Linked DNA regions of Homo sapiens. The protein of the gene in region 3 interacts with the protein of the main gene of each other region in a pairwise test. Each region holds a gene or a part of one and is shown on either strand. Other genes may lie near its edges.

Evidence for each region.
Region 1: the proteins of LAMP2 (region 3) and SPMAP2 interact in binary tests that used the Homo sapiens proteins (3 or more experiments, as listed by UniProt).
Region 2: the proteins of LAMP2 (region 3) and MYBPHL interact in binary tests that used the Homo sapiens proteins (3 or more experiments, as listed by UniProt).
Region 4: the proteins of LAMP2 (region 3) and FYN interact in binary tests that used the Homo sapiens proteins (3 or more experiments, as listed by UniProt).
Region 5: the proteins of LAMP2 (region 3) and KLHL36 interact in binary tests that used the Homo sapiens proteins (3 or more experiments, as listed by UniProt).
Region 6: the proteins of LAMP2 (region 3) and FAM9A interact in binary tests that used the Homo sapiens proteins (3 or more experiments, as listed by UniProt).
Region 7: the proteins of LAMP2 (region 3) and FASTKD2 interact in binary tests that used the Homo sapiens proteins (3 or more experiments, as listed by UniProt).

Annotation. Positions count from the first base shown.
Region 1 is NC_000019.10:363,637-366,026, reverse strand, and holds part of SPMAP2 (sperm microtubule associated protein 2), read left to right. Parts: intron 1-1,006; coding exon of another isoform or gene 1,007-1,102; intron 1,103-2,390. UniProt on the Homo sapiens protein: May be involved (but not essential) in spermatogenesis.
Region 2 is NC_000001.11:109,294,439-109,297,011, reverse strand, and holds part of MYBPHL (myosin-binding protein H-like), read left to right. Parts: intron 1-69; coding exon 70-229; intron 230-641; coding exon 642-778; intron 779-1,714; coding exon 1,715-1,901; intron 1,902-2,573. UniProt on the Homo sapiens protein: Myosin-binding protein which plays a role in cardiac function. Seems to regulate conduction in the atria and ventricular conduction systems.
Region 3 is NC_000023.11:120,452,297-120,455,796, reverse strand, and holds part of LAMP2 (lysosome-associated membrane glycoprotein 2 isoform A precursor), read left to right. Parts: intron 1-226; coding exon 227-440; intron 441-3,500. UniProt on the Homo sapiens protein: Lysosomal membrane glycoprotein which plays an important role in lysosome biogenesis, lysosomal pH regulation and autophagy.
Region 4 is NC_000006.12:111,698,953-111,702,452, reverse strand, and holds part of FYN (tyrosine-protein kinase Fyn), read left to right. Parts: intron 1-2,184; coding exon 2,185-2,349; intron 2,350-2,782; coding exon of another isoform or gene 2,783-2,938; intron 2,939-3,500. UniProt on the Homo sapiens protein: Non-receptor tyrosine-protein kinase that plays a role in many biological processes including regulation of cell growth and survival, cell adhesion, integrin-mediated signaling, cytoskeletal remodeling, cell motility, immune response and axon guidance.
Region 5 is NC_000016.10:84,665,511-84,668,186, forward strand, and holds the end of KLHL36 (kelch-like protein 36), read left to right. Parts: 3' UTR 1-2,176; downstream 2,177-2,676.
Region 6 is NC_000023.11:8,791,384-8,794,883, reverse strand, and holds part of FAM9A (protein FAM9A), read left to right. Parts: intron 1-1,127; coding exon 1,128-1,226; intron 1,227-3,500.
Region 7 is NC_000002.12:206,793,106-206,796,605, forward strand, and holds the end of FASTKD2 (FAST kinase domain-containing protein 2, mitochondrial), read left to right. Parts: 3' UTR 1-3,084; downstream 3,085-3,500. UniProt on the Homo sapiens protein: Plays an important role in assembly of the mitochondrial large ribosomal subunit.

The DNA.
Region 1 (2,390 bases), on a different chromosome or scaffold from region 3:
TGGGACTACGGGAGCCTGCCATCACTCCTGGCTAATTTTTGTATTTTTAGTAGAGACAGGTTTTCACCATGTTGGCCAGGCTGGTCTTGAACTCCTGACCTCATGATCCGCCCACCTCGGCCTCCCAAAGTGCTGGGATTACAGGCATGACACCGCTCCTGGCCAGGAAGCAGCATTTTTAAAACGTGAAGCAGACCAGCAAATGAAGTGCACTGACCTATGTGGGGTTAGAGCGAGAGTGTGGCTGTTTGTGCTCACACTTGCTGTGTGGGGGTAAGAGTGTGGCTGTATGTGCTCACACTTGCTGTGTGGTGGGGGTAAGAGTGAGTGTGTGGCTGTGTGTGCTCACACTTGCTGTGTGGTGGGGGTAAGAGCGAGTGTGTGGCTGTGTGTGCTCGCACTTGCTATGTGGGGGTAAGAGTGTGGCTGTATGTGCTCACACTTGCTGTGTGGTGGGGGTAAGAGCGAGTGTGTGGCTGTGTGTGTGTGCTCACACTTGCTGTGTGGTGGGGGTAAGAGCGAGTGTGTGGCTGTGCTGTTTCTCTGTGCGTGCTCACGCTTGCTATGTGGGCTCAGTTGCTGCTGCTCGGGAGTGCTGGAAACTCAACAGAGTTTCAAAGCCCAGATGCCTACTAAATTCTCACAGAGGAGTTCAAAGAAGGCTAGGCTCTGGGCACGGTTCTTCCAGCCCCCTTAGGGTCACCAGGGCCCCACTGCTTGGCCCCCTTACCCTGCACAAGGGCATCTGCCGGGCAGAGCTCGCATCCACCCGGAAGGTGCAGAAGAGACAATTAGCATGCAGAGCAGGGGCCAGAGAAGCACTCACACCTGTACCAGTATATGGATGTTTATATTCACGACGTGTGTGTGTGGTGAGCGCGGGTGCGTGCAGGATGGTCTAAGGCAGTGCTGTATCTGCAGTTTCCATTCAGATGGCCTTGCCCAGCCACGTGCCACGTGGGGTTCTGCCTGCCTAGTGGAAGAGACTCCACACTCTTTTCCCCAGGAGCCTCTTCACAGAGCCAGGGCTGGTCTGCCAAGAAGTGGGTAGCCCTTATTCATTTGCGCAGAAGTTCCACGCAAAGAGGGATCTGGAAAGAAGGTGGGAGCTTTCCCAGAAATCAAAGGCCCTGAAGCCTTCAGAGACAAGGTAGAGGACAGCCCCGGCTGCTATGCCAGACTCGGTGGCCACCTTTCTTCCTAGTCTCCAAGCAGTCTGCTGCAGCTCCCTGCTATAAAGGAAGGGGTGGGGGAGAGATGGTGAGAAGGGGGTACCAGGAGGAGGGGGCCACGAGTGCCTGAGGGACAGCCACCAGGGAGCAAGACATGACCCCAGCCAGGGGGAGGAGATGCCTCCTGCCCCGACCCACTTACCACCATGACATGAGCAGGTGGAGAGGGGGGTGAACCAGGGTCACCTGTGTTGGCAGCAGAGTGAGGAGACTTGAGCTCTCTTGGCTGTGGCCCCCTGAGTCCCCCTTTCAGGTACCTGTGGCCATTTTTTTTTTTTTAGAGATGGGGTCTCGCTGTGTTGCTCAGTCTGGCCTCAAAACTCTAGGGCTCAGGTGATCCTCCTGCCTCTGCCTCCAAAAGTGCTGGAATGACAGGCATGTGCCATTGAGCCTGGCTGCCAGTGGCCGTTTAAAATATTTTTTCTTTTTTTTTCTTTCTTTTTTTTTTTTTTTTTTTTGAGACAGAGCTTCGCTCTGTCACCCAGGCTGGAGCGCAGTGGCGCGATCTCAGCTCACTGCAAGCTCCGCCTCCCGGGTTCACGCCGTTCTCCTGCCTCAGCCTCCTGAGTAGCTGGGACTACAGGCAGCCGCCACCACGCCCGGCTAATTTTTTTTTTGTATTTTTAGTAGAGATGGGATTTCACCGTGTGAGCCAGGATGGTCTCGATCTCCTGACCTTGTGATCCGCCCGCCTCGGCCTCCCAGAGTGCTGGGATTACAGGCATGAGCCACCGCGCCCAACCGAAATATTTTTTATTTGTAATTCACCCTGTTTTAAGTGTAGGTTTCGTAGCTCGATGTGGCAGTGCATATGACTGTAGCCCCAGCTACTTGCGAGGCTGAGGTGGGAGGATGGCTGGAACCCAGCAGTTCAAGTCAGGTGGAGGCTGCAGTGAGCTAAAGATCGTGCTCCAGCCTGGGAGACACAGCAAGACCCTGCCTCAAAATAAAATAAAATGGGGCCGGGCACGGTGGCCCACACCTGTAATCCCAGTACTTTGGGAGGCCGAGGCGGGCAGGTTGCCTGAAGTCAGGAGTTCGAGACCAGCCTGGCCAACATGGTGAAACCCTGTCTCTACTAAAAATACAAAAAATTAGTCGGGCGTGGTGGCGGGCGCCTGTAGCCCCAGCTACTCGGGAGGCTGAGGCAGGAGAATC
Region 2 (2,573 bases), on a different chromosome or scaffold from region 3:
ATGTTGGGACAGGCCTCTGGTAGCTCCACATGGGGTGGCTGATTTCTGGCATCATGTTCGGCCCCGCAGCTGTGGTTCACGGTGCTGGAGCACTATCACCGCACCAGCTGCATCGTCTCTGACCTCATCATCGGCAACTCCTATGCCTTCCGTGTCTTTGCTGAAAACCAGTGCGGACTCAGTGAAACAGCCCCCATCACTACGGACCTCGCCCACATCCAGAAAGCAGGTAAGGGAGGCATGGGGATCATGAGCTGGGAAGACTTAAGGATAGGCCGGGCACAGTGGCTCACGCCTCTAATTCCAGCACTTTGGGAGGCCAAGGCAGGCGGATCACCTGAGGTCAGGAGTTCAAGACCAGCCTGGACAACATGGTGAAACCTCATCTCTACTAAAAATACAAAAATTAGCCAGGCATGGTGGTGCACGCCTGTACTCCCAGCTACTCAGGAGGCTAAGGCAGGAGAATTGCTTGAACTTGGGAGTTGGAGGTTGCAGTGAGCTGAGATCGTGCCACTGCACTCCAGCCTGGGCAATAGAGTGAGACTCCACCTCAAAAAAAAAAAAAAATACTAAGGATAAAGAGTCGACGAGGGCTGGGATCTCAGAAGCTACATGCCAGCCCCTCTTGGTGCCCTCAGCTACTGTTTACAAGACCAAGGGGTTTGCCCAACGAGACTTCTCTGAAGCCCCAAAGTTTACCCAGCCTCTGGCCGACTGCACTACAGTCACCGGCTATAATACCCAGCTCTTCTGCTGTGTCCGCGCCTCTCCCCGGGTGAGTGGGGGCTCTGGGGGGCACTGTGCTGAGCTGCTTCTTGTTCCTGCCTGTCCTAACCTAAGCTGAGTTGCAGAGCACTGTAACATAACATCTGTTACCATCACCGCCATCTGCCTCTTCTACAGCACGGTATTTAGGAACAGTCGGGGGGGTGCTTGGAGTCCAAGACGGACTGATGAGAATGACATTTCCTTTTGAATGTTTGTTTCTCATATATGGAGGTGTTGCTTACTGACCTGCTGGCAATTAGGCATGCGCCTCAAGTTGTTTCTGTGGTAGGAGTGACAGAGTCCCTGTGGTTTCTCCTTCCCATGCATACCTCATCCCATCAGGGCCGTGCACATGCAACCTGCCTAGAGTTCAGCCTTTTGCCACAACCCTGAGCAAGGCTCTCTGTCTATTTACAATCTAGTCATCATGCTCCACACACAGCAGAAAACACCATTAACAACCTGTACCAAGAATCTTTTGGGTTTTGAGTCTGGGCAAGACTACATGGAGATAACATCTCAGAAGGGGCATATCAAGAGCCCACTCTAGAAGCTACTCTCTAACCAGAGGGGACAGAGGCAACTCACAAGTCAGCAGTGGGAACAGAATATGGATGGTTCACAAGAGGTGAGCCTGATGCTCAGTGCTTCTGATCCATAAAGGGGCTGCCTGAGAGCCCGGAACGGAAGTTAGCAGTTTTCTTCCAGTCAGAAATATTGGTAAAGAAAATGAAGTTTCAGGTGCTGTTTTCAAACAAGAGAAGGAGCTTGGGGGACTGCTGGTGGCACTGGAAGGGGAAACCCTTCCCACAACATAAGGAACAGGGAGCCTTCCAGAAAGCCATTATCTCTATATAGACAGAGTCCCAGAAACTGAGCACAGAAAGACTATTGGTTCTTACCCTCGCCCCTCCTTGCTGCCTCCCTCATCTTTGTCTTCCAGCCCAAGATCATCTGGCTGAAGAACAAGATGGATATCCAAGGCAACCCTAAGTACAGAGCCCTGACTCACCTGGGAATCTGCTCCCTAGAGATCCGCAAGCCGGGTCCCTTTGATGGAGGCATCTATACCTGCAAGGCGGTGAACCCCCTAGGGGAGGCATCTGTGGACTGTCGGGTGGATGTGAAAGGTAAGGGCAAGAGGAGAACTAGTGCCTTAGGGTGCCAGTCACCTCCTCTCTCCACCGGTGGAAGAGTCAGGGAACAGAGACGCAAGCCTAGGGGGAGAAGGGGTTCCTCCGCTGGACTCTTTCATCACTGTCATCATCAGGATGTATTGGAGGAGACATTTTAATTATCTACTATCTCATTTCTCTCCATCACAATTCAATAATATAGGAAGAATTCTTATTTCCATTTTGCAAATGAGAAGACGAAAGTACAGGGAGGGAACTGGTTTGCCCAAGATTCCCAGTGTCAGTTAGTTGATCACCTGGCACTGGTGGAAATAGCCCAGGTCTCCGGGTCCTCGCTCAGCTCATTTTTCTTTATGCTGTGCAATCTTCTGACTCAGCCTAGGAAAGCTGCAACTGTTTGTCAGGCTTTATTTCACTTCCCCTCCGGTTTATTTATAGGTAATATTGCATATCCTCTCTACTTCCTTAAAGTATTTAATCACTTATCTATACCTGTCACCTTGTTCAGATCTCTATCATTGTGTTTAACATACTGTTTTATAATTATCTATTTATAGATATGTTTCCCTATTAAATTATAAGCATTTTGAGGGTAGGGACATTGTCTTATTTGCCTTTGTCCCCCCAGTGTCTAGCCCAGTTTCTGACACACAGTAGGCACTCTAA
Region 3 (3,500 bases):
CAGCAGCTCAAGCCAGTTTTCCTTTTCTTTTTAGACATACACGAATTTATCCAGAGGAGTGGTATGTAGCAGAAGAATCAGGGACTGGTTTACACAGCAAACCAGGCAAAGGGCAACCTGGCCATGGAGAATGTATGATTTAGGCTGAAGTGGCATGCCCTACATAAATGCTTGGTGTTCCTTGCTGCCTGTTTGTTTCTCACCCCCAAATTTCTATTTCTTTTAGAAAACTGTAACCATTTCAGACCATGGCACTGTGACATATAATGGAAGCATTTGTGGGGATGATCAGAATGGTCCCAAAATAGCAGTGCAGTTCGGACCTGGCTTTTCCTGGATTGCGAATTTTACCAAGGCAGCATCTACTTATTCAATTGACAGCGTCTCATTTTCCTACAACACTGGTGATAACACAACATTTCCTGATGCTGAAGATAAAGGTAACCTTAAGAATGGATTTGTGTTATGTTCTCTTGCTTTTTATTAATGATAAAAATGTAAACAATTTTAAAATTGTTATGAATGTCTGTCTTCCTAACTAGCATGGAAACTTCATGTCTTTATAACCCTCCCACTGACCCCATGCATGGCACATATGACACCATCCAACATACTGATGATATTTGCTGTCATTGCTTGAGTGACTTACTGTATACCAGGTATTATCCTAGTATACAGTAAGTCACCTTACTATATATATCCTAGTATACATATATATGTGTATATATATACATATATATGTATATCCTAGTATATATGTATATATATATATACACATATATCCTAGTATATATATACACACATATCCTAGTATATATGTATATATATATCCTAGTGTGTGTGTATATATATATATATATATCCTAGTGTGTGTGTGTGTGTATATATATATATATATCTCCTAGTATACAGTAACACACCTAGTGTGTTACCTGCAGCATCTCACTTAATTCTTAACAGCAACCCTGGGAAGTAGATGTTGTTTCATTTTTACAGGTAAAGGAAATGAGGCTTGATAAGATTAAATGACTTTTCCAAACATCACACAGTCTGGTAAGTGGGCGAGCTGGTGTTTGAAGCAGTCTATTGACCTGCAGAATTCATATACTTAACTATTATTGATTTCATTCAGTAGTGTGCATGAAACAAAGGTTTGATGAATGAGAAAATGCTTTACTAATAGCTACTTTATTTTCAAGATCGGGGGTTGGGGGGGGTGTCTCACTATGTTGCCTAGGCTGGTTTTGAACTCCTGGATTCAAGCGATCCTCATGCCTCACAGCCTCCTGAATAGCTGGGACTACAGGCATGCACCACTGTGCCTGGCTACTAATAGCTATTTTAAATGTGTAAAAGTTAAGTAACCTGAGACTAGGAGAAATGCCTCTTGTTCAAATCTTTTTATCATTTAGGTTGGATTTTGATTGAAAAGTAAATGATGATTAGTTAAAGGTGTAGTAGTCCCTCATTACACTCAGGGGGTATCATTCTAAGATCTCCCGTAGATGCCTAAAACTGCAGTTACTACTAAACCCTATACAGGAAATGCTATGTTTTTTTTTTTTTTTTGATCTGATAACTGACATGGCTACTAAGTGACTAACGGATGGATAGTGTAGACAACGTTGATATACTGGACAAAGGGATGATTCATGTTCCTGGTTGTGCAGAGCGGGACAGCAAGAGATTTAATCATGCTACTCAGAATGGCGTACATTTTAAAACCTATGAATTGATTACTTTTGGAATTCTCCATTGAATATTTTCAGAGCTCAATTGACCATGGGTAACTGAAACCAGGGAAAGCAAAAACCGTGGATAAGGGGAGACTAAAGTCAACATTTGCTGTTATTTTAAGACAATTTCAGGTCAAAATGAACTTGGGAAGCATTGGCAATTAGGCCATTCTAGTAATTCCCAGAACTGAAATGCGTGTTAAAATATTTTGAAGATATAGAGTGTAGAGATTTTATTTTATTTTATTATTTTGAGCTGGAGTCTCGCTCTGTCGCCCAGGCTGGAGTGCAGTGGCCTGATCTCGGCTTACTGCAACCTCCGCCTCCCAGGTTCAAGCAATTCTCCTGCCTCAGCCTCCTGAGTAACTGAGATTACAGGTGCGTGCCACCACGCCCGGCTAATCTTTGTATTTTTAGTAGAGACAGGGTTTCTCCATGTTGGCCAGGATGGTCTCGAAATCCTGACCTCACGATCCACCCACCTCAGCCTCCCAAAGTGCTGGGATTACAGGCGTGAGCCACCGCACGTGGTCGAGATTTTAATTTTGTTAGGGATATAATTCTCTTCTTTCTCCCCCTGCCCGTTGAGATTGAGTTAATGTGGTATTTGTAGTAGCTTAGCTCTTTGCAGATAGTGTTTCATTCTGACCCCAGAAACAGGTAGATGGGCTTTAGTTGCCTAGACCTGGGGATTAATAACTCATTTGGACTTAAGGATGTCAAAAGATCCTATTCGAAAGAACCAGAAGTAAATAAGCTCACGTAAAATTTGGGAGGTATTGCAGAATGAGACTTGGAAATCAAATCCTAGTGTTCTTTTTACTAATCTCTTAGTTTGAGAGTATAACTAAAGCAAATGGTTATTGGCTATCTTATCAGTTTATCTTTGTGCCCTGTTTTGCCTTTCAGAGCTAGTATAAGATATGCCCCTCACTTTCAAGTAGCCTAAGAATGAGCTGGGGAGACAAAGCTAAATGCTATTCCCGAGTTACATGGAAAAATTGGAAAACATTGAGCTCAGTCTGATTTTGTTGTTGTTGTTTGCGTTTTTGTTTGAGGGAGTAGAGGGTTCATAAATCTCTTCTGACAGTGTGAGGAAAACTTTAGACTCCCTCTCAAAAAAGAAAAAGTACACAGTAAACTTTGCATATGGAACATAGTCCCTGAACCCATATGTAGATCCCTGTGGTTAAGAGTGCCTGATTTAGGTCGAGAATGGTAGCTCATGCCTGTAATCCCAGCACTTTGGGTGGCCGAGGCAGGCTGATCACTTGAGCCAGGGAGTTCAAGACTAGCCTGGGCAACATATTAAGACTTTGTCTCTACAAAAAAAAAAAAAAAAAAAAAGCCAGGTGTGGTGGCGTGTGCCTGTGGTCCCAGCTACCTGGGTGGCTAGGGTGGAGGATCGCTTGAGCCCAGGAGGTTGAGGCTCCAGTGAGCTGTGATCCCACCACTACACTCAGCCTGGGTGACAGAGAGAGAGAGACCCTGTCTCAAAAAAAAAAGAAAAGAAAAAGAAAAGACTGGCTGATTTAAAAGTGTTCCCGTGTTCCCACAAGTGGTCCTGATTAGGAGGAGTGATAAAGGAAGGCTCAGTGTGTGTTAGAGTAGTGAGAAAGCTTGGTAGAGAAGTAGGACCTGAGCTGAAACTCAGCTAATGGTAGAATTTGAGTAAGCGGAGGATTTTGAGCAGGATGTTTCCAGCAGGGGGAAGCATAGCATATGCGGCAGTAATTGGAGAGCTGCCTGATTAAATCAGGCTGT
Region 4 (3,500 bases), on a different chromosome or scaffold from region 3:
CATTCTCATGCAAGCCATTTATCATGTTCCCCACCAATACTGCTGTTTCCTAACTAGGCTTAGACTTACACAACCCACAGCTCTTAGATCTATTATGTCTATTGTGTTAAATTAAACTTTTATAATGTACATCAGTTTCTGTCCTAACACCCAGATATCACCATTATTTTGTTCTTTCTGAAAACATATAATTATTAGATATGCAGTTTATACATTTTATCAAAGACTGGTTTTATGTGCAATTGTTAAAATGATTGCTTTCTTTCCTAGATTAGCAAGTATTATATGCCACTATATAATACATGTTCACATGTGCCTATAGATATAGGTGCACATGTATAGACACATGTCTATATCCTATTAAGCCTAGAGATATTTTTTTGTGTGACCCATTTCTCCATTTTCTATTGTTCTCCAGGACAAAGGCAAGACTCAAAAATAGTATATGATTTACCTCTACTATTGCTCTGTGCACAATCATTGAAATATGTATGTATAATTTTTGGCATGAAAAAGCAATCTTTCGAAAATGACAATAAGAAATGTCTGTTGATCCCTTGCACTAATGAACAATAGAAAATATTAACAGCACTTGCAGTACTAGTTGATTATGGCATTGGCTAACTCGGTTTATGTGGATTCTAATGAAACATTTGGGAGAAATGGAACAAAATATCTCCCTGAGCTTAAGTGATATACTCAAAATGCCTGCATGTTGTAAGGATTTTTCAAATGCTGAAATATATTTCATTACAGCCAAACATCAGCAGGATCCCCAGGGTTTGGATCATTTGAAAATACTGTGTTCGAAAGGGCACCTTAATAACATTGTAAAGCTGGAAGGAAAGAGGGGATATGAACAATAGACACTTTTTTTAATCTCGGGGAAAAAAAATCCATCTCACGTTAGACTTGTTTTTATATTGGCTTTCCCTCTTCCCTCTTTCTCTCTCACACAATAAAATGCCTTTGAAATGCTGACACATAAATAATTTCCTACCTAAACATCTCAGAGCCTGATTCCATCAAAAAGAAAGGAGTAAAAAGCAAGTTACAGCCCAGCAGCACATCTGCTTTCCCTGGGTCCGGGGGCTGCCAGGAGGGAGCGGGAGGTCTGTCCACCTCACAAGGCAGGCTCTGTCAGCTTTTGTCACTCCCTGATTTCTTATTCTTTGTTACCTTTTTTCGCCTGACTGATTTTTACTTGGCATTTAAGTTCCCCTTAGCACTGCCAGATTCTAAAAGGTTATATTCTTTTTAAAAAAGAAGAGAAAGAAAGAAGGAAAGAAGACAAAGAAAGAATAAAAACCTCCGAGTGTTAACTACTTTTTCCTTTCTTCTTTTTTTTATAAAGAATACATTCTTTCACATCTTGAATTTCTGTGAATTTTAGTTTCCATTCTTTCTCCTTTCAAACCAGACACCTAAATTATACGTCGAAGACTGTTAAAAAGTTGTTTTTTTTTTTTTAATGGAAAATATCCAAGAAGCAGCCCAGGAGTATCTGACATGGTGGAATGGAATCAGTTAGAAAGCGAAGAAATCACTAAAAAAAGTTACTTCTTTTTTTCCCCACCAGTTATAATCTTCAACCTTACTAGTTTATAACAGTTTAATGTCCTATAGAAGGATCCTCCACTAAAGTTATAATTTTAAGTATAGTCATATAGAGAGATCCCTAATCCCCTGGGTAATCTAGATACTAAAGGTGGGGAAGAACAGTCATATTGACATTCTTTAATCCAAAACCACTGTTTGAAATTAGTAAGGATATTTTCAGCATTCCCAAAAACATGTTATTAGCACGTTGAGCTGAAAACGTTTTTCTTCCTCAGTGAGTACAGAAACCAAAGCAGTCTGCGTGTATGTCTATGTATAGACTGTATCGTACCTGGGCTCATGGAGTAGTCTAAATTTAAAACGTCCTCTCTTCTACCTCCAATGAAAATGTTTCCGTGTGTGGCGTCTGATCTTCCACCGTGTGTGTGGTCGTCTGCTGGTGTAGCGCTGTTTAAGGAGCGCTGTGTGCTGCTAGTGTTCCACGATGTGTGTGGTCGTCTGCTGGTGTAGTAGCACTGTTTGAGGAGCACTGTGCGCCGCTAGTGTGGGTTTACACTTATGAGTGTTGTCATTACATGTGTTCTGCTCTTCTCTCCCTCTCCTGCCCCTGCCCTGCTCCATCAGAGAGAGCTGCAGGTCTCTGCTGCCGCCTAGTAGTTCCCTGTCACAAAGGGATGCCAAGGCTTACCGATCTGTCTGTCAAAACCAAAGATGTCTGGGAAATCCCTCGAGAATCCCTGCAGTTGATCAAGAGACTGGGAAATGGGCAGTTTGGGGAAGTATGGATGGGTATGCTGAGACTCAATTACTCTCTTATTAGCTTCCCCGTTTGGAAGATCCCAAACACCAAAGATGGAAGGTGAAAATAAAGACTGCGTGACCGGGAAGAAAGTTTGAATTACTAATAGTGGGGAATAATAATTTCAGTTTTGGTTTTAACATTCTGGAATTCCTAAAAAAAAAAAAAAAAAAAAAAAAAGATAGTAAGTGGGCAAAATTGGCAAATGGCTCAAGTTGTACTATTACATGACTCTCAATTCATAAACCAGCAAATGGTCCAAGGAATGTTCCAGCTGCCATAAAATATCTTGCTCTTCATTTCCAAAAGCAAATATTTGTTGAGTGTCATCCTAACGGGCAAGTCACCTTCCATCTTTCCTAGTGCATGCATAATTATGGATTATAAGGACTGTGTTTTCTTTATTAATTCCCTTTCCTGTAGAGAAAGCTGATGGTTTGTGTTTTAACTTAACTGTGATTGCATCGAGTTGTACCCCACAAACTTCTGGATTGGCTAAAGATGCTTGGGAAGTTGCACGTCGTTCGTTGTGTCTGGAGAAGAAGCTGGGTCAGGGGTGTTTCGCTGAAGTGTGGCTTGGTAAGGCAGAGGGCACATTTTGTTTTGGCTGCATCTCAAAGCCGATTAAAAGGATGGTTTTGAACAAAAATGCACACACAGCCGTTGGGACAAAGACACTTAACCTGGATAACTAGACGGGCACAGGCCATCCAGATTTTCAGAATATGCTGATACCTTGCTGTGCTCATCTGTCCTACTTCATGTGGTTAATTAAGGCACCCGCAGAACAGGAAACCAGTACACTATGAATCTGGTGTTTCCTCTTCCTAAGAAATGGGAAGGTAAGATACTGTATATGGGCAGCCATAAGAAAGACCATGGACGTTTTGCTCAATGGGCCTGGGTTTGAATCCTTACTAGCTAATTAACCACGAACAAGGGGCATATTTAACTCCTTTAAGCCTCAGTTTTTTCATCTGTAAAATTGGAATGATACCTTTTTGTTGTTGTTGAGACGGAGTCTTGCTCTATCACTAGGCTGGAGTGCAATGGCGCGATATTGGCTCACTGCAACCTCCACCTCCCAGGTTCGAGTGATTCTCCTGCCTCAGCCTCCCGAGTAGCTGGGATTACAGGTGCC
Region 5 (2,676 bases), on a different chromosome or scaffold from region 3:
TGGTTAGCACGCAATTGGTATTTTTATTGTTCTGCCATTTTATTGAGGCTATCAAGTGGGACTTCAGACCTGGCTCTGAGCAGGACCACACGTGTGTATTTATATTGAGTGCCCTCACTCATGATAAGGTGACTTCATGGAGACCCAGAAACTCACCCTAAGGGGTGTTCACCTTTGAGGTGGGCATCCAGATGCTGAGGGGAAGTGGGGTCCATCCTCTGAGGTCCAGGGGCCTACTTTGTGAGCTCAGTTGTGTTCACCTGTGGTTCAGTGTACCTCGGCCCCTAAGCCAAGTGATCGTTCAGTGACTTGCAGCAATGTGGGAAGTGAGGGGACCCCTGCCACACCCCCCACCACCCCCTGTAGAGTCACTGACCTTCATCCTTCACCCTGGTCCTCCATGGTGCAGCAGCATCTCATGGGCCTTGTGGCTGTCAGAGCCCGTGGTTGGAACCCCGTCCACTGGTCCCAAACCTGGAGGGGCAGCTGCAGATGAGGTTTAGACCTCCTGGTGTCTCCGTGGATTCTGAGTGCCCAGGAGGGGAGGGGAGGGGGTGGCATCCTGGCCTCTAGGATAAATGCCTGGAGTATAGGGCAGCGCCACGGGCACTTGGAGACCCTGTCCTGCGCATCTGCCAAGCCTGGCAGTTTTTAGAGTTTTTTGAAATGTTTTGATACTTTTTGATACAATTTGCTAATAACTGTTTTGTAGAATGCCTGCCGGGGTTTTCCACCTCATCCCTTTCCTCCGGCCCCTTGATTTGTGCTGGACAACAAATGGCAGCACCAGGACCTCGCCTCATGTGGCTTTGTCTTGGATCTTGCCCTTCTCCATCGCTGATGTGATACAGCTCTAGAATTTCGTGAAGTTGCATGCAAAGTTGCATGCAGCCCGTGGGTATGACTGTCTCAGGCCCCCAGCTCATTTGCCAAGAGGAAACCTTAACCCCCCTGAGAGGGTCTGCGTTTCTTCTAGAGCTCCTACCTCAGTGGTGTGCACAGAGTTGGAGACACCTGAGGGCTGGTCCACGTCTCACCTTTGCCATACGGGTCATTTCTTGATCAAATATATGACTGGGGTCCTGGTTTACTCCCGCCCACCCTTTCTTTTAAAGTATTCTTAACATGAAATCCACAAAAGCGGAAACAATGAACCATTCTTGCACTTTACAGAATCATTGTCCTTAGCTTTAGAGGTTGTTAATTTCTTGTTTTTAACATGAACAGAATGTGTGGTTCTGAAGGTGTGTGGGGGTCTCAAGAAATTGTCCTTTGGGGCCGGGCGCAGTGGCTCACGCCTGTACTCCCAGCACTCTGGGAGGCCAAGGGGGACGGATCACCTGAGGTCAAGAGTTTGAGACCACCCTGACCAACATGGTGAAACCCCGTCTCTACTAAAATACAAAAATTAGGCAGTCGTGGTCGCCTGTAATCTCAGCTCTTCCGGAGGCTGAGGCAGGAGAATCGCTTGAACCCAGGAGGCAGAGGTTGCAGTGAGCCGAGGTTGCGCCACTGCACTCCAGCCTGGGTGACCGAGTAAGACTGTCTCAAAAAAAAAAAAAAAAAAGAAAAGAAATTGTCCTTTGGTTGCCTTAGTTACCAGAGTTGAATGAATGTACACATTTCGGTAGTGGGGGGGCAGAGCGGATAACCCCTTCCTTGTCTGTTTCCTTTGAGAAAGGACACTCCACCTTTTCAAAGGTACTTAAAGCCATCTTTACAGATTGCTTGTAATGTAAGGAAAGAGTCATGTCCTTTGGATTGATTGAGGTTAAATCATCAACCACTAGCCCCCTTTCAAAATCAGCGAGATATTTGATGATTAAGTGATTCATTGGGTATGTTCTGGCTACTGATGTTACTGAAATCTGCAATCGTGTATGTTTTTTAATTTGTTGCTTTTGTATTTGTAATTTTATGACATTTCGAAGTTTCTGTGTCTTAACTCTTTTTAATTAATTTTCTGCACGTTGCTTTTTTCTCTTTGTTTTTAATTCCATACAGAGTATTCAATTCTTGAAACACATTAAAATAATTTGCTTGCTAGGGTATGGTTTATTTTATAATTACATTCCTAGTCTTGTGTGGTTATTGTAATGATGTCTGGTCCTAATTTCTCTGCCCGTATGAAAAAGAACCCCTTGCCTGTTGATCCTAAATATAATTTGGAAATTAACCAGACTTCCTTTTGGTGTTGTGGGGAGGCTGGGACATTTCAATTCTGCTTTCATTGTGTTTCTAATTACTGTATTTTGCCAGGAATTTCATTCAGTTCCTTGATTGCAGGGCTAAGTCCCCGTGACCTGAAATGAAACTATTTGCTTAAATGTGTGTCAACTGGGGTAATTTGATTAGAAAAGAAACACAGAAACCAAGGGAAACAGCTTATGACAAGCAGTGTGCTATCTTTATCAGAAAAAATGCAATCACAATACTCTAAGAACCAGCTCTGTTTTCCTTCGGGCGCTCCCCTGCCTTGCTGGGGTTTTGCAAGGCCACCAGCAGAGAAGCCCAGGCACGGTTGTGCACCCTTTCCTTGTCCCTTCGGCAGGTCAGCATCGGGAGGGTTGGGGAGGGGTGTCTGCGCAGCCATCATACCTGATAAGGTGGTTAGAATTTGCCTCTGAGCCAGTGAGCCCCAAACGGGACCCGCTGCCCGGTGCCGACTTCCTCACC
Region 6 (3,500 bases), about 110 Mb from region 3:
AAAGAAGTTAAAGTGAGCCCGGTTGGCATATTTGTGCAAAAGCAGCTGTAGGGTTGGAATTTCCTGGGTTGGGGTGTAGCTGCGCACGTTGATAGAAGGAGAGTTGGGCAGGGCATAGATGCAGGGATGGGGATATGATGACTGGCTGTGGAATTTCAGCTGGGACTGAGTTACCTGAGCACATGGGGGTGGGCAATGGGCAGTGAAAAGTGTTCCATTCAGTGGGTGTCGGGTCTCAACAGACTCCTGAGCTGTAGTACTGAAGTGAGTGACCTACAGTGGCAGGAAGGTAGTGGCTGTATGTTGGGAAGATGGAGAAACAGCTGAGTGCAGTGGTCAAGGGCTGGGACACTGCAGCCCCACTGCTTGTAATTCAACTCCAGCTTGACGATTGCTAGCTCGGGAACCATGGGCAAATTATTTATCTCTGTGCCGAAATTTCCTTATCTGCAAAAGGAGACACGGTAAGAGAACTTATGTCAGAGTTATTTGGAGGATTGAAAGGTTCCTGTGTAATGGGTTTATTTAAATTTTTCAGGATGTGATCTGACCCATGATTGCTCTTTATCATTGCTATTATTAATATTATGTAGATGTTGCAGTCATTGGGAATGATAAAATCTAGGGGATGACTGTATAAGTGAGTGCCACGTAGAGGAGAGGAGAACACTGTTGTTGGAGATTAGGTCAAGGTGCAGAAAGGCAATCATTATTGGAAGGTTCATCCGTGTGCATACTGAAATGACCAAGATTTATTACCTGTTTAAAATCTTAGTAAGAAAGAATGTTTCTTAGTTAATTTCTGTATATATCTTACCCATCTGTGGTCAACAAATTATAGGAAGGGTCGTCAAATACTCTACATTCAAAATCAAGAATTAAGACATATGTGTTGATTATGTATGTAGAAGAAAGAAAATTCCTTAATCACTGATGAAAAAGGTTATTATATCATTTTAGCATATGGGTGGTGAACACAGTTGTTTAAAATTGGTCATAAACATTGTTTAAAAGAAAGTGTTAAGAAGTATAGATTTAAAGAGTATTCCTATAAAGCTAATGCAGAATTATGTTTTGTAAGTATTAAAAATTACCCAATTTTCATCACTATTTTTTTGTGCTTCTAGAAAGCATTTCAAGAAAAACAGAAGAGGTGGCAACAACCTACAGGTGTTAGGAGCTGGAGGCTGAGAGAGATGAAGCCGCTACTTGAGCAATTACTAAAGGTCTGTTCTATTTGGTAACATAATACATTATAAAATACAACACGTGCATAACAGAAGAAAGTCTGTTTGTTTCCGAATGTATGGAAAGACATTTTGGTTATGCATTTTAAATTACTTACCATTTTCACTTTGAATGTATTGTTCCAAATTTAACATAACTGGTAAATGTATTTTTAGGATTCGTGAATAGTTTTGTGGGAGTTATTTAGAACAGGAAAAGGTAAATTGGAAATTTTACCTGGAAATATACATCTTGTGTATATTGTTAACGCATTGACACATTTATGCCGGAGGCTGCACATTTTTTGTGTGTGAAGAAACAGACCTTGGCTATGTTCTTGAGCGGTAGGAGATACATGATTCCCACAAGCTTAGCGTTCCAATAATGGAACACTAGGCATAAATGGGTTTTAATGAAGATTTTATTTTCAGTTTTCAGGACATCAATGACACATCTATGGTGGAAGGCAGGAAGACCATAAATCCTTTCTGGATGTCTTTTTTACTTGTGTTGTTTCAAGAGTTTTAGTTAAATAGGAAGTAGGCAAGTGTAACTACTGAGTGTCTCTTTTATTTCCTGCTGTAATACAGGAGTGTTTTATGGCATATTCACTTTCAAAATTATCAGCGACTAGTAATGGTTTTACATGACAATTTGTAGTCATAAGAGATGGTTCAGATGTATAACAGAATGGGAAAGCCAGCAAATTATTAACACGTTGTGAATTGTGAATTATCTGCTGTCGTATAGCACATTAGCAAATTGTCATCAATGACCTCTTCTTCATGTAGATGTACATTATTTAGGTAACAATGGAATTCCCTTCTGGGAGGTAAGGTATTCTTTTTAATAACCTTGTGAAAAGACATGTTCATATGTCACTCCTCTACACTAACTGAGATGTGTTAAATAAACTGAGAAAAGAGTTTGAAAATAAAATTTTCAAGCAACTTGAGAATGATCTATACACAAAACAGTTATTTAAATAGAAGTCACAAGTAGAGAAAATGTTGCTATAATGTTCACCAGAAACCATTTATTAATTGGTATGAACATGAGACTAGAAGTTTTCCTGTCAATGTTAATGCTACATGTTACCACTTAGGGTAGGAACTTTGCTATCATCTTGGACTCTTCTAAGTCCCTTATCCTTCCCATGCAGTTATCATGAGGCAAGTTTTACCTCTGTAATGGCCCTTAAATTTCTTTTTTTAAAATTCCCACCGCAGCTGCCCTAGTTCAAGACCTCATTCTTCCTTGCTTGTACTATTAAACTCTTTTCTGAGTTCTCTCTTCTCTTCTGAGCCATCCTTCATTGATCGGCAATATTATCTTCCTAAAACCCTCCCCTTCCTAAAATGCTTCCTAGCCCTTCCCTCTTCCCAGCCTGTCAGTGATGCCCCGTCTCAGTTCTTAGATATTCAGAGACTCTCCCCTTTACATGACCCCCTCTTAGGCTTGCCGCCCTCTGTCTTTGCTCCTGCCTATCCAGGTTGACAGCTTTCCCTGAAGGAATTCACTGTTACTCTTATGCTTTTCTCATGCTCTTCCCTCACAATGCTTTAAAAAAATTTTTTTTTGACTAAGACCAATTTAAACCTTTTGCCAACTAAGTCAACATACGTCTCCATTTTTGGCTACATGTCTGAGTGAGTTGCCCTTCCATAGCAGTTATACAATTTTTGTATTAATTTTTTTTATTTGTGCATTTGCTCATGTCACAGGATTATGGAAGAGATTGTGCTTACATTTTTTACATCTTCCTTAGCATTAACATACACCATTTTCAGGAGTAGGAACTGTTGAACTATTTGTTGAGGGAATAGTATATATTTCAAACATAGTTACATTTTTCTCTAACTTGATGAGGTCATATCACCAACCATTTTATCCCTTCAATGGAAACCACTTTCCGTAGACTATTGCTGATAATACATGGGTCACTACCTGCTGAAAAAATATATTTCATGGTAAGCCTGCCTGACTTTTTCTGTCTTTGCTCCATCTTGACCTTAAGATGCTCATCAACCCATTTTATTCAAGCAAAGTACATGACAATTGGACCTGCTAAAATAATATTTCACTGAAATCTGGCATTAAAAAATTTAAGTGGGTATTTGGAGCTCCATGTATTGGTTACAGTTTTTTTCAAATTGAAATAAATAACCAGCATCCTTTGAATATTAAAAGCTGTTTCCTTTTGACATCTGATTAACCCTGTTTAAAACGTGAGATGTAAAGTGGTGGTTTGTCAGTGAACTAGACTTTTTCTT
Region 7 (3,500 bases), on a different chromosome or scaffold from region 3:
CAGCTACTGGGGAGGCTGAGGCAGGGGAATCGCTTGAACCCGGGAGGTGGAGATTGCAGTGAGCCAAGATGGTCCTGCTGCACTCCAGCCTGACCACAGAGCGAGACTCTGTCTCAAAAAAAAAAAAAAAAAAAAAAAAAAAAAAATACAAAAACTATAGCAATATGACAACAGCTGCCAGGTTGTATCAATTTATCCAGCTTGCATTTAGAAAAGGTTAGAGCTGAAAGGAAATTTAGTGATTATTTAATTGTTACTTCCCTCATTTTATGGACGAGGAAGATAAGGCTCAAAGAATTTTCCTTTCCTGAAGTCTCAGCTATGCCATTGGTTCCACATCATTTCATCCTCACCTGCTCTTCAGCTTGTGTCCCAGGAGATCAGGCTTCTGGTTCCAGATTGGACAACCTCTAGTTTTGTATACTTGGCCAAGTGATTTAACCTTATAAGCTTCAGAACAAGATGCAGATATTCTGTTATTAAAGGAACTAAGGTTTTGTCTTTAAATGTTGAGTGTGCATCAGTTTTGAGTGTCTAATTATGACTCCTCTTCAAAGGATTTGACAAATTTGTGAATATTTATGACCACCTTTTAGGGTAGTAATTTTCAGTTTGTACTAGTTAACCTGGCAGATAAAAAGGCATCCCTCTTTTACTAGCATTCTAGTGTTAGCATTCTTCATTGCTTTGTGTCAATGAAAGAAAAATGGGCAAAGAGCTGATGAACATGAAAAAAGTTCAGTCTACTTGTAAAGACATGCACATTGAAACAGAAGAGATGGTTTTGCCTTTCAAATTAGCAGTTTTTTTTCTTTTAAGAATTACAGTGCTGATGAAGGTATAATGAGGCAAGCACTTGCATAAGCTGTTGGTAGACTGTAAATTAATACCTTTCTGGAATGTACTTTGTGGGGTTTTCTTCTCCCATAATTTAAAAAATAGCTTTATTATAGTATAATTGACATACAGTAAACTGCATATATTTAAAGTGTACCGTTAGGTCAGTTTTGACGTACATACACACACACACACATCTGTGAAACCACAATCAAGATAATGAATATATCTATCACCTCTAAAAGGTTCCTGTCTTTGCTTTTTTCTCTGTCCCCTAAACAACCACTGATCTATGGCACACATAGAAAAAAATTAGGAAATATATTAAATGCTCATTTTGTGTGAGATATCCAAATATTTTTTTCAGAATCCCTAATGAAAAGGTTGATCTTGCTCTAGATACAAGATATAAAATTGTATTCTTGAAATAGCTACATGCAATTCTTTTTTATTATTTTTTAATTTTAATTTTTAGATTTTTAAAGATGGGGCCCTGCTATGTTACCCAGGCTAGCTTCAAACTCCTGGGCTCAAGGGATCCTCCTGCCTCAGCTTCTCAAGTAGATAGGACTGATTATAGGTACAGGCTACTGTGCCCAGCTCAATTCTTGATTGAGACATTTACCAGCTCTCCGAATTCTCAGTAGTTACCACTGAATAGAAACTTTCTTTACACAAAGCTGATTAAACAGTTTAGAACTTTTAAAAAACATTCAAAAATTGAAAATTTCATATATACATAGCCTAACAACTCTTCTTGTCATTGACAAAATGTGATGGTATTTTTTTTGTGATAATACACATGGACCTCAAATGCAATTGAACTATTCATATCAAGTATTTCCAAATAACAATGACATTCCAATTTATAGAATGTCATGTGTTGTGAGGGTAGTCACCCTGCAACTGGCTTGGACATCTCTAAGCAAATAGAAGTTTCTGTAAGATAGAGATTTGGGGCATCTACTTGGAACTACCTATGAGGAGCTGGCATTCCTCAAATCCCAACTGACTGCACTTTTCCATGAAATTACCCAGCAGTTATGATGGTCAGTGGCTCACTCAGCAGCAAGCCACTTAGGTAGCTGGCGAGGGACGTGGCACAGCCTTGTCTTCACACAGCACATCACAGCCAGGCAGCAAAGGACAGATCTCTCTCATACTCTTCATTCACAGGGCCTGAGAGGTGGACCATCAGACTCCACCCTGTTTTGCGCTGACTTGTAGGGAGACCTAGGTGTGGAGCTTCCTGGCCAGGAGGGCAGTGGCTGCCCAGAAGGCAGGAGATGGCTATCTCTTTTTTTTTCCTGAGACGGAGTCGTGGTCTGTCGCCCAGGCTGGAGTGCTGTGGCGTGATCTCAGCTCACTGCAAGCTCCGCCTCCTGGGTTCAAGCCATTCTCCTGCCTCAGCCTCCCGAGTAGCTGGGACTACAGGTGCCCACCTCCATGCCCGGCTAATTTTTGTATTTTTAGCAGAAACAGGGTTTCACCATGTTAGCCAGGATGGTCTCGATCTCCTGACCTTGCGATCTGCCCGCCTTTGGCCTTCCAAAGTGCTGGGATTATAGGCGTGAGCCACCACCCCCGGTCCAAGATGGCTATCTCTTAACACACTTGTAACCCATTTGTGCACACAGGTGTGCCGTGACTCACTGGTGGATCCAAAAAAAGCTGAAGCCTACATTTCCCAGAGCCCCTTTCAGCTTGAATTCCAAATGTGACTTAGCTTCCTCTATGCAGATGTACCTACTTGAAACTGGGAAGGCCAAATGAGATAGAGGTAATGTTTCTGCCAACAAACAGCCACAGAGCATTTTATTTTTCTAGAAGAGCAATAACAGAGACCCCAGGGTGTGGTGTGGCAGGACGAGGAGCATCCATTTTGCTGGTGGGGATTGTGGCTAAAATAATGTGGCTCTGGAGCCAGCAATGGGCAGCATCTTCATGACTTTCCAGCTTCCAGGCTGTAAGCAGAGATAGCATCTCTTCTGGACAGCCAGTTATGTGATAGTGTTCTGAGAGTCATTCCTGGAAGTCAGACTAAAGGCTGCTCCTTCAGCCTTTCCATTCATCTTGTAAGCAGGAGGCTTCTGTGCATGGCCAGAAACTAACAAAAGCACATTGTGTCTAAACTAGGTTGCAGTGGTTTCTGTTATCAGCAAGTAAATCCTGATTGATAAAGATACTACAATATATGCACATATATATGTTATAGAATCAATAAAAATTGGATACTTTGCTTTAAAAGTTTGTGAATTTTGCTTTTAAAGAATTTCCCTCAGGGCCGGGCACAGTGGCTCACACCTGTAATCCCAGCACTTTGGGAAGCCAAGGCAGAAGGATCGTTTGAGCCCAGGAGTTTGAGACCAGCCTGGCAACATGGCAAAACCCCACCTGTACAAAAAATAGAAAAATTAACTGGGTGTGGTGGCATGCACCTGTGGTCCCAACTACTCAGAAAGCTGGGGTGGGAGGATCGCCTGAGCCTAGGAGGTCGAAGCTGCAGTGGGCCAAGATTGTGCCACCGCACTCCAACCTGGATATCAGAGTGAAACCATGTCTCAAAAAAGAAAAAAGAATTTAAAAAGAATTTCACTCAGGGTTACAGACACTTAATGTTATTAAGACCCACTAGGAACACCTGTGTATACTGCTGGCTGGTT